Homo sapiens: one gene and its partners. The protein of the gene in region 1 interacts with the protein of each later gene in a pairwise test. Each region holds a gene or a part of one and is shown in the gene's direction. Other genes may lie near its edges.

Region 1 (3,655 bases):
GCTATACCAGTAAGTCATACCTCACTGTGCATGAGAGAACACACACAGGAGAGAAGCCTTATGAATGCCAGGAGTGTGGGCGAAGGTTTAACGATAAGTCCTCATACAACAAGCACTTGAAGGCGCATTCAGGGGAGAAGCCTTTTGTGTGCAAGGAGTGTGGGCGAGGCTATACTAATAAGTCATACTTCGTTGTGCACAAGAGAATACACTCAGGAGAGAAGCCTTACAGATGCCAGGAGTGTGGCCGAGGCTTTAGCAATAAGTCACACCTTATCACACACCAGAGGACACACTCAGGGGAGAAGCCCTTTGCGTGCAGGCAGTGTAAGCAAAGTTTTAGCGTGAAAGGAAGTCTCCTCAGACACCAGAGAACACACTCAGGGGAGAAGCCTTTTGTGTGCAAGGATTGTGAGCGAAGCTTTAGCCAAAAGTCAACTCTTGTCTACCACCAGAGAACACACTCAGGGGAGAAACCTTTTGTTTGTAGAGAATGTGGGCAAGGATTTATTCAGAAGTCAACCCTTGTGAAACATCAGATCACACACTCAGAGGAGAAGCCTTTTGTGTGCAAGGACTGTGGACGAGGCTTTATCCAAAAGTCAACCTTCACTTTACACCAGAGGACACACTCAGAGGAGAAGCCTTATGGATGTCGGGAGTGTGGGCGAAGGTTTCGGGATAAGTCCTCCTATAACAAGCACCTGAGGGCACACTTGGGTGAGAAACGTTTTTTCTGCAGGGATTGTGGGCGAGGCTTTACCTTGAAGCCAAATCTCACCATACATCAGAGGACACACTCAGGAGAGAAGCCCTTCATGTGCAAGCAGTGTGAGAAAAGTTTTAGTTTGAAGGCAAATCTTCTTAGACATCAGTGGACACACTCGGGGGAAAGGCCATTTAATTGCAAGGATTGCGGGCGAGGCTTCATCCTAAAATCAACTCTCCTCTTCCACCAGAAGACACACTCAGGGGAGAAGCCTTTCATCTGTAGTGAATGTGGGCAAGGATTTATCTGGAAGTCAAATCTTGTGAAACACCAGCTTGCACATTCTGGCAAGCAGCCTTTTGTATGCAAGGAGTGTGGGCGAGGCTTCAACTGGAAGGGAAATCTCCTCACACACCAGAGGACACACTCAGGGGAGAAGCCCTTCGTGTGTAATGTGTGTGGGCAAGGCTTCAGCTGGAAGAGAAGTCTCACCAGACACCACTGGCGGATACACTCAAAGGAGAAGCCTTTTGTTTGCCAGGAGTGTAAGCGAGGCTATACCAGTAAGTCAGACCTCACTGTGCATGAAAGAATACACACAGGAGAGAGGCCTTATGAATGCCAAGAGTGTGGACGAAAGTTTAGCAATAAGTCATACTACAGTAAGCACTTAAAGAGACACTTACGTGAGAAGCGTTTTTGTACAGGGAGTGTGGGTGAGGCTTCATCTTGAAGTTATATCTCACCATCCATCAGAGGACACACTCAGGAGAGTAACTTTGCTTTGTTACAAGCTTTAGTTGAGGCTGCATAACTTGTTCGTGAAGATATAACAGAGGCAGACAGAATCCAGAGGGCTACAGAGAACCTGAATTCAACCCATGTGTCCCCAAGAGATTCAGAGAAAAGAGGTCAATGTTTAGGGAACAGAGATGCCAGTTGAGGGGAGGGCATTACCTGGGCTATTGGGGAAATGTGGTCTCTTTCCTACTGAGCACATATTCTTGTTGTATTTGTGCCAGGCTGTGCTTTCTAAGGACTGCTCTTAGCCAGTGACTGCAGAGCAGGGATACCAAGGCAGGCCTGTTACACTCTCCCCAACCTCCTTGGACTGCAAACAATCTAGGACACCTCCACCAAACCTCCTCTTGCACTTTCCCTCTGGCTTCCCTCCCAGCCTTCCTTGGTTTGGATGTTTTGTCCCCTCCTTAATTTATGTTGAAACTCTACATAAACTGTTTACTGTTGAAACAGTGTAAGTATTAGGAGGTGGGACCTTTGGGAAGTGATTAAGTCAAGTCACGAAGATAGAGCTTTGCGAATGGGATCAGGTGCCCTTATGAAAAGGCTTGATAGAGGGAGTTTGTCCTGTGGCCCTTCTATTTTCTGCTCTGTGAGGACACAATGCTCCTCCCTTCCAAAAGATGCAGCATGAAGGCATCATCTTGGAAACAGACATGAGCCCTCAACAGACAACTGCACCTACTGATGTTTTGATGTTGAACTTCCCAGCCTCCAGAACTCTGGGAAAATAAAGTCCTCTTTATACATTTCCTAGTCAGTGGTATTTTATTATAACAGCTCAAATAGACTAAGTAACTGCTCCCCTCATCATTCTCTCACAGTCATATCTGGAAATAAAATCTCTGTATATGCAGTCCCATATTGGTCTTTGCAGAGAACTCCCTCCAACACAGCTGATACCAAGAACAGTCTGACAAAACAAGTGGTAAAATAGGGATCTGGGGACCACTCACCTGCCTGGCAGGAGTAAAGCATGTTGGCTGGTGGGGCACAGGTAGGTGGTTAGCTGCAAAATATTTCACAGGTGATTTCCTGAGAAAATGCCTCAATGATAGAGAATGCTGTGGCAGATGTGATGATGCAGGCCTTTGAAAATGTAGGGAAAGTGCCTACAAAGAGCAGAGTAGACTGATTATCGCCGATCTGCATTACCACCTGCAGAAGGACCTTGAGAAATTGAAGACTTCATTCAGCCATTAGCAAACAGTTAATGGTTAAGTAAACCAGGACTCCCTGGTGAGTGCTTACAAGGCCTTTATCTTCTTGGATAGAAGGCAGAATTATTGCCCAAATATGTGGGCTGAAGGCCTGTAGCAGAGCTCTACAGATGTTGGAATGCTCAGCCAATGCATGTCTATTTTGTAGAGGTCAGACCCTTCGTAAGGAAAATCTGGGATCCTGAAAAATGACACCGGAACATCTCCATGGATGCCCAAGATTGCCTCTGCCATGCTCCCAGCCACAGACCATCTGGGTGTGTAGAGATGGCCCATCCTTCCTTAGGAATAGCATTTCCACCATTCATTACCACAGAACCTTCACAATTAAGGCCAGCTTAATGAGCATGTGCCCTACATAGCTGCACACAACCCTTGTCCAGCACAGGGAAGATACATGCAATATGCCTATCCTTTTGTAAATGGTATTTGTGATGCTTGCCCTTCAACTTCCATAACTTTCCTCATACTCATTTTGAGTTTCACTGCACATTGTGGGTTCACCAGAATTCTGTGCTCCTCTTCCATATTAAACACATTTACATCTGAGTGATCTGGGACACTGACAGCCCCAAGAGACACCACTGTCCATTTGGACCCAGAATTTGATTTGAACTCAGAAGACAATGTCTTAGCATAAACAGCCAAGGAACCCGGTCAACGCATTTCCTGCTCAAGTTCCTCTTATTAGCCAACCACTTGTGTTGAAAATGATCACACACAAGGGATTGGAAACATAAGGCAACTCATAGCTACTTTCTCTGTTTCTTACTCAACTTGAAGTTAGAGTGCACTGGTAGAATGTGCATATGGAGAAGTGAAGTAAAACAGTTGAATTAGACATTAGACACAGTGGTTCACGTCTATAATCCCAACACTTTCTGATGCCAAGTTGGGTGGATTGCTTGAGTGTAGGAATTCAAGA
Region 2 (3,280 bases), on another chromosome or scaffold:
CACAGCCTGGTCACCAATGTTCTATCAGCATCACAGAATACTGTCTCATGGTGTCTAGCTTGATGAACTTGGTTAGGATACTCTCTCTGTTACTCAGCTTTGTCATCTGTAACATGGGGACTAATACAAGGACTAAAACCTTCTATTAGCCATTATCCTTCTTGCCATCTACCCCATGTTAAAGCCAGGCTGATTTGTTCTTGGATCTTAAGTGTGACAAAGCCTGCGGGAAGGAACCACATTCTGAAGGTTTGTGGGCTGTGTGAGATCCAGAGAACCCAAGGGGGTTTTTTTGCTCTTGACAAACGAATGTTAGGTATGACCTATGATGATACAACTTCTGCAAAATTGAGGACCAGCCTATTTCTTCATTAGAAATGCAGGAAACCTGGCCGGGCGCAGGGGCTGACGCCTGTAATCTCAGCACTTTGGGAGGCAGAGGTGGGCGGATCACAAGGTCAGGAGATTGAGACCATCCTGGCTAACTCGGTGAAACCCCGTCTCTACTAAAAATACAAAAAATTAGCTGGGCGTGGTGGTGGGCGCCTGTAGTCCCAGCTACTATGGAGGCTGAGGCAGGAGAATGGCATGAACCTGGGAGGCGGAGCTTGCAGTGAGCCGAGATTGCGCCACTGCACTCCAGCCTGGGCAAAAGAGCAAGACTCCTTCTCAAAAAAAAAAAAAAAAAAAAAAAGAAATGCAGGAAACCTATTTAAAAGTAACAGAAACAGCTGGGTGCATTGGCTCATGCTTGTAATCCCAGCATTTTGGGAGACCGAAGCGAGTGGATTGCTTGAGCCCAGGAGTTCAAGACAAGCCTGAGCAACATAGCAAGACCCCATCTCTACAAAAATGAAAAAATTAGCCAGGCCTGGTGGCATGTGCCTGTTGTCCTAGCTACTCAGGAAATTGAGGCAGGAGGATTGCTTGAGCCCAGGAGTTTTAGGCTGCGGTGAGCTATGATCGTGCCACTGCACAAAACCAAGAATTTAGAAAAAGGAATCCACATAATTGGAAATTGAGTATTAAGTTTTTGCTTCCTAGGAAGGTAGTCTAAATCCTTATACAAAAACTTAGCTATGCAGTGCCAAGGTTGGATTGCTTGTGAATGGGTTTGCATGCTCTGTAACCTATCAGTTATTCTGAATCAAGACTTGAATATTTAAACATACTTGGAAAAGAAAAAGATCAAAAAACAAAATAAACATATTTGGCTATTTAGTAATATAATTAAGAACATGAGTAAACCATAGTATTCGAGGTCCAAGTATTAGTTGCCAGCCTAAAAACTAAATATGGCCAGGCGCAGTGGCTCATGCCTGTAATCCCAGCACTTTGGGAGGCCGAGGCGGGTGGATCACCTGAGGTCAGGAGTTCCAGACCAGCCTGGCCAACATGGCAAAACCCCGTCTCTACTAAAAAAGTACAAAAATTAGCTGGGCGTGGTGGCGGGCACCTGTAATCCCAGCTACTCGGGAGGCTGAGGCAGGAGAATGACTTGAACCCAGGAGGAGGTTGCAGTGAGCTGAGATCACGCCACTGCACTCCAGCCTGGGCAACAGAACAAGACTCCATCTCCAAAAAAAAAAAAAACCTCTAAATATATTGTGTTAATTTATAGAAAAATTGTAATTTAAATTACATATTCATAGTCTTGCCTACTTGCATGAGCATGTTTTTATTGCTTCTAACCTGGATTGAAATCTATGACTTTTTATAACAGTCATTGAGTCTGTTTCAAAGGAATCTTGTGGTAAGTATTTTTGCATGATGTACTCAAGGTATCAAGTTTAACAATTGACTTTTTTTCATTGGAAAGCATATGTGATTAACTAGCATGGATTGCTTCTTGACCTGCTTGTTTTGTGTTTGTCTTTTTCTTCTAATATAATAACCAGGGATTAATGAAAATCAAGTTCCATCCTCAGACAAGAGGTAAAGTTCACACATTCTTCCCATGTCTGTTCAGAAAAGAAACCTATTCAGATATAAGTTAAGCTAATTTAGTAATCCTAGAATTGTCCTCTGAGAGATTTAGATGGATGGGCCACTTCACAGTAGCAGCCAACTCACGGGAGCACCTGGGCAACGCTAGTGGACTTTTTTGTAGTGAGTGTGTTGATCATAGAAAATGTAGATATAAGGAAATAAACTTTGAGGATAGAGAATTAACATTATTTTGAGATATTATATATAGGTTGTGAAGAGTGGTGGTTGTCACACTTTATGGTCTCTGGACCCCTTAATGTCTGATTCATGTAGCAGAAGCCAGCTAGATTTTCATCTGTCTCTATTCATTTTGTTGTGATGTCATGGATCATGTGGCCTCTGGAAAACTCTACTGTATACTCGAGAATGAGAATATAACAGGCAAAATAACATTATCATGAAAATAGTTTTGACCTCATGAACCCCATGAAAGGTTCCCCAGACCAAAATTTTAGAATCACTGGTATAGGGTAACACTTTATTGTGTAAATTCAGTTCTCTGTACCCCACTTAAATATGTATTATTATCTCTTGACATTATTTTCCCAAAAAATGCTGTTTGATTTCTTACTTGTTCTGTACTTTGTTTTTCAGGTAAAGAAGGAAAATTCAGCCAGTTGATTTTGTTTTTAGCTTACTGCTGCCTTTGTCCGAAGAAACTGTTCCTCCATTATTTGAATTACTGAAGACAGCAAGATATTTGTAAATTATCTTAAAATAAACAACTTAAAATAAAATCATTGTTTTTCTTATATATAAGAACAATAGATATAGTTTTTGAAATGAGATGATACTAAAACATTTAAAAATATTAATATGCTACTATTAAAATTTTTTAGTAGAAGACAATTTAAGAGGCTCTTTTGATTTGGTAGTGCTCCACTGACCTTAAAATGTCTAGCCTCTATGGGGACAACGTAGAGGGAAAGGGCTGCAGCCACAGCCTCAGCCCAGTTCTGTGCCTTATTACAGCCTTAAAGAACAGTCAACAAGACCAGGCACGGTGGCTCATGCCTGCAGTCCTAACACTTTGGGAGACTGAGACTCAAGGTGGATCACTGGAGGTCAGGAATTTGAGACTAGCCTGGCCAACATGGTGAAACCCTGTTTCTACTAAAAACAAAACAAAATACAAAAATGGTGCACACTTGTAATCCCAGCTACTCAGGAGGCTGAGGCAGGAGAATCGGTTAAACCTGGGAGGCAGAGGTTGCAGTGAGCTGAGATCGCGCCACTGTACTCCAGCCTGGGCAACAGAGTAAGACTCTGTTCCAAAAAAAAAAAAAAAATG
Region 3 (3,655 bases), on another chromosome or scaffold:
CAGTTCTCAATATTCCAGCACCCCTCCACCCAGAGACAACTGTGAACATGACCTACCAGCCTACAACACCCAGTAGCAGTTTTCAGGATGTTAGCGTGTTCGGTATGGATGCGGGGTCCCCCTTGGTAGTTCCACCCCCTACTGATAGTGCACGCTTGTTGAACACGTCCCCCAAAGTGCCTGACAAGAACACTTGCCCCAGTGGGATCCCCAAGCCTGTCTTCACACATTCCAAGGACACACCTTCCTCGCAGGAGGGAATGGAGAACTATCAGGTTGAAAAAACAGAGGAGAGGACAGAAACTAAGCCCATCATTATGCCCAAGCCCAAGCATGTGAGGCCCAAGATCATCACCTACATCAGGAGGAATCCCCAGGCCCTGGGCCAGGTGGACGCCTCGCTGGTTCCAGTGGGGCTTCCATATGCCCCGCCCACATGTACCATGCCTCTTCCCCACGAAGAGAAGGCAGCAGGTGGTGACCTGAAGCCATCTGCCAACCTCTATGAGAAATTCAAGCCAGACCTGCAGAAGCCAAGGGTCTTCAGTTCCGGATTGATGGTGTCTGGAATCAAGCCCCCGGGACATCCTTTCAGTCAAATGAGTGAAAAGTTTTTGCAGGAGGTAAGAGAATGTCATTATGATATGGTCTATAAGTTGACTGTCCCAATATCTGTGACATATTTTCAATGAGTTATGAAAGTAAAATGTCCTCTTTAAGTGAATTACAGATTTTCATGGATACACTTGTGAAGAAATGGAGTTTTTGACTAGAGGAGATTGTCTAGAGAAATGACCATTTTTAACTAGAAGAGTCTGATTATCTTAATAAGATGTACCCAATATCTAAGGAGACCCATTTAAATTTCACTTGCTATAATTCATATGAAATTAGATGAGTATGCCTTAAATAGGCTTCCATGTTTAAATAAGTGAATATAATATAATATAAGCCAGGTTAAAGGAAGAAAGAATGCAAAATTACTGTGTTCTTCAAATAGATCAGACTCATTCCTCAATGGGGAGTATTTTCTACCTGGGAGTATCTCTTATTCGCATGCGTGAAGAACAGCAAATGAGCAGAAAACGGTGTGTTAGGCATGGACTCTTTCTTTAAAATAAAAGTAATAATTACAACTAACATATAATTGAGGGCCAGCTCTACACTGGGCCCATATAATACAGCGTTTGATCTTTGTTAATCTTCACTAATCCTTGCAGTAATTCCCTGAGGGTTGGTATTGCAGTTTTTTGTTTGTTTATGTTTTTTTTGGCTTTTTCTTTGTTTTTGAGATGAAGTCTCGCTCTGTCGCCCAGGCTTGAGTGCAGTGGCGCGATCTCGGCTCACTGGAAACTCCACTTTCTGGGTTCACGCCATCCTCCTGCCTCAGCTTCCCTAGTACCTGGGACTACAGGCGCCCGCCACCGCGCCTGGCTACTTTTTTGTATTTTTAGTAGAGATGGGGTTTCACCGTGGTCTTGATCTCCTGACCTCGTGATCCGCCTACCTCGGCCTCCCAAAGTGCTGGGATTACAGGCGTGAGCCACCGCGCCCAGCCGGTATTGCAGTTTTTATCACCGTATAGATACAGAGACAGACAGAGAGCTTTAAGTCACCCACCACAAAGGAAGGAGAGCTCTGAGAGTCTCACTCAGGCCTGTGCAGTTTCAGACTGCACTGTGCTGTCCTTTTTAGCTATGGTGAGTCATCCTTCGAGACCTCAGAACTAAGATTTGTCTCCTGAAGGAGTCTCTTCATGACAGCTGAGTGATCAGTTAAAAGTAAGGCAGGAGCCAAGGACAGCGGCTCACACCTGTAATCCCAGCATTTGGGAAGCCGAGATGGGCAGATCACAAGGTCAGGAGATCGAGACCATCCTGGCCAACATGGTGAAACCCCGTCTCTACTAAAAATACAAAAACTAGCTGGGTGTGGTGGCATGTGCCTGTAGTCCCAGGAACTGGGGAGGCTGAGGCAGGAGAATTGCTCGAACCCAGGATGTGGAGGTTGCAGTGAGCTGAGACCACGCCACTGCACTTCAGCCTGGCAACAGAGCGCGACTCAGTCTCAAAAACAAGGGCAGGATGAGATCATCCTGTCTCTAACACCTTCCAGGGCTGCCCAGGTTGCTTGGAACACAAGCTGGAGCCTGTAGGATGGCTCTGCCTTTAGGATGGGATGTGCTCACTGGGGGTCCGTCAGCTACCTGCCCTCCTCTCCTTCCACTCTCCCTTTCTCACTCTGCTGCTTCAGGACCTTTGCACCTCCCTCTGCTTGGAATGTTCTCCCAGTTATCCAGATGGCTCTCTCCCTCACTCCCTTTAGGTCTGTGTTCCAATGTTATCTCCTTGGGAAGGCCACCCATCTTCTCTCTGAATCCCTTTTCTCTGATTTATTTCTTCCTAGCACCTACCTCCACCTGCCATAAATACTTTTTTAGTTTTCCTGAATTGACTATAATGTAAACTCCATGAGGGAAGGGATTGTTTTCAATATTTTGTTCCCCGTGTTCCCAGAATTTAGAATGGTGCTTCTTATAAGTATGTGCTCAAAAAATGTTGAGTGATAACTGAATCATGAACTCCATATGTGTTGGAACTAAACAAAAGTGTACCAAGGGTTTCTAGAGATAGGATGATTGAGTCCAAATTTGGACTCTAGCTTGGTTAGATATATTGGCATATTTAAAGAATGCATCAATCACAACAGAAGTTGTCATATCTAGCACAAAGACAAAGTTGAATCCATTCTCGGCAGCAGACATTGACTTAGGCAATCACTGACGAGGTGCCCCAACAAGCCGACCAGCTGTGCTGCCTTGCCGCAGGTCCTTAGCAACCAAATCACACAGCTTGCTCCCTGTGTTCTGACTCTGGGCCTGCCAACAGGCCTCTGATTATAACGGACTTCCTACCTCACATCTCTAGAGAGAGGATTCTGGCTGGAGAATTCAGGGGTCCAGTCAGCTTGGCAGGGGTTTGTCTTGCTGTGCGGGGCTGCATGGCATCTTGTTTATAAGTGGCTTCTTACTCTGTGCCCTGCAATGAGAACGTGTTCTGGCTAGAGGACACTTGAGTCTGGCTTTAGGCAGTGGTCTCCAATTAAAAGTGAACAAATTGCCCTTCTGGATTTTTACGTCAGTCTCTGAGTTTAGTTATAGTGAGTCATTTTCAAATTTCTAAACATTCATCCACCTGGGCCTCTGAGGCTCAGGGTCAGGCTCTGAAGCTTTGCTCTTCTATAAGGCAGGGAATCACTGCAGAGGTTCCATGAAGAGACCTGTCAGTCCATTTGTGTTGCTATGAAAGAATACCTGAGGCTGGGTAAATTATAAGGAAAAGAGGTTTATTTGGCTCATGGTTCTGCAGGCTGGAGAGGAAGCATGGCACCAGCATCTGCCTATGGTGAGGCCTCAGGCTGCTTCCACTCAAGGGGGAAGAAGAAGGGGAACCACGTGTGCATTGATCACGTGGTGAGAGATGAGCAAGAGGGGAGTGGAGGAGGTGCCAGGCCTCTCTTTAAGGACCAGCTCTCATGGGAACTAATAGAGCAAGAACTTGCTCATTACCAAAAGGAGGGCACCAAGCCATTCATGAGGCATCTGCCCCCATGGCCCACACACCTCCCACTAGACCCCACCTCCAACATTGGAGAT

The links.
Region 2: the proteins of ZNF337 (region 1) and ATP5F1C interact in a two-hybrid assay, tested with the Homo sapiens proteins (one large-scale study listed by IntAct).
Region 3: the proteins of ZNF337 (region 1) and MTUS2 interact in binary tests that used the Homo sapiens proteins (3 or more experiments, as listed by UniProt).

The regions. Positions count from the first base shown.
Region 1 is NC_000020.11:25,672,819-25,676,473, reverse strand, and holds the end of ZNF337 (zinc finger protein 337), read left to right. Parts: coding exon 1-1,442; 3' UTR 1,443-3,279; downstream 3,280-3,655. UniProt on the Homo sapiens protein: May be involved in transcriptional regulation.
Region 2 is NC_000010.11:7,805,076-7,808,355, forward strand, and holds the end of ATP5F1C (ATP synthase F(1) complex subunit gamma, mitochondrial isoform L (liver) precursor), read left to right. Parts: intron 1-1,898; coding exon 1,899-1,905; 3' UTR 1,906-1,935; exon of another isoform or gene 1,936-1,941; intron 1,942-2,583; coding exon of another isoform or gene 2,584-2,587; 3' UTR 2,588-2,726; downstream 2,727-3,280.
Region 3 is NC_000013.11:29,026,281-29,029,935, forward strand, and holds part of MTUS2 (microtubule-associated tumor suppressor candidate 2), read left to right. Parts: coding exon 1-623; intron 624-3,655. UniProt on the Homo sapiens protein: Binds microtubules. Together with MAPRE1 may target the microtubule depolymerase KIF2C to the plus-end of microtubules. May regulate the dynamics of microtubules at their growing distal tip.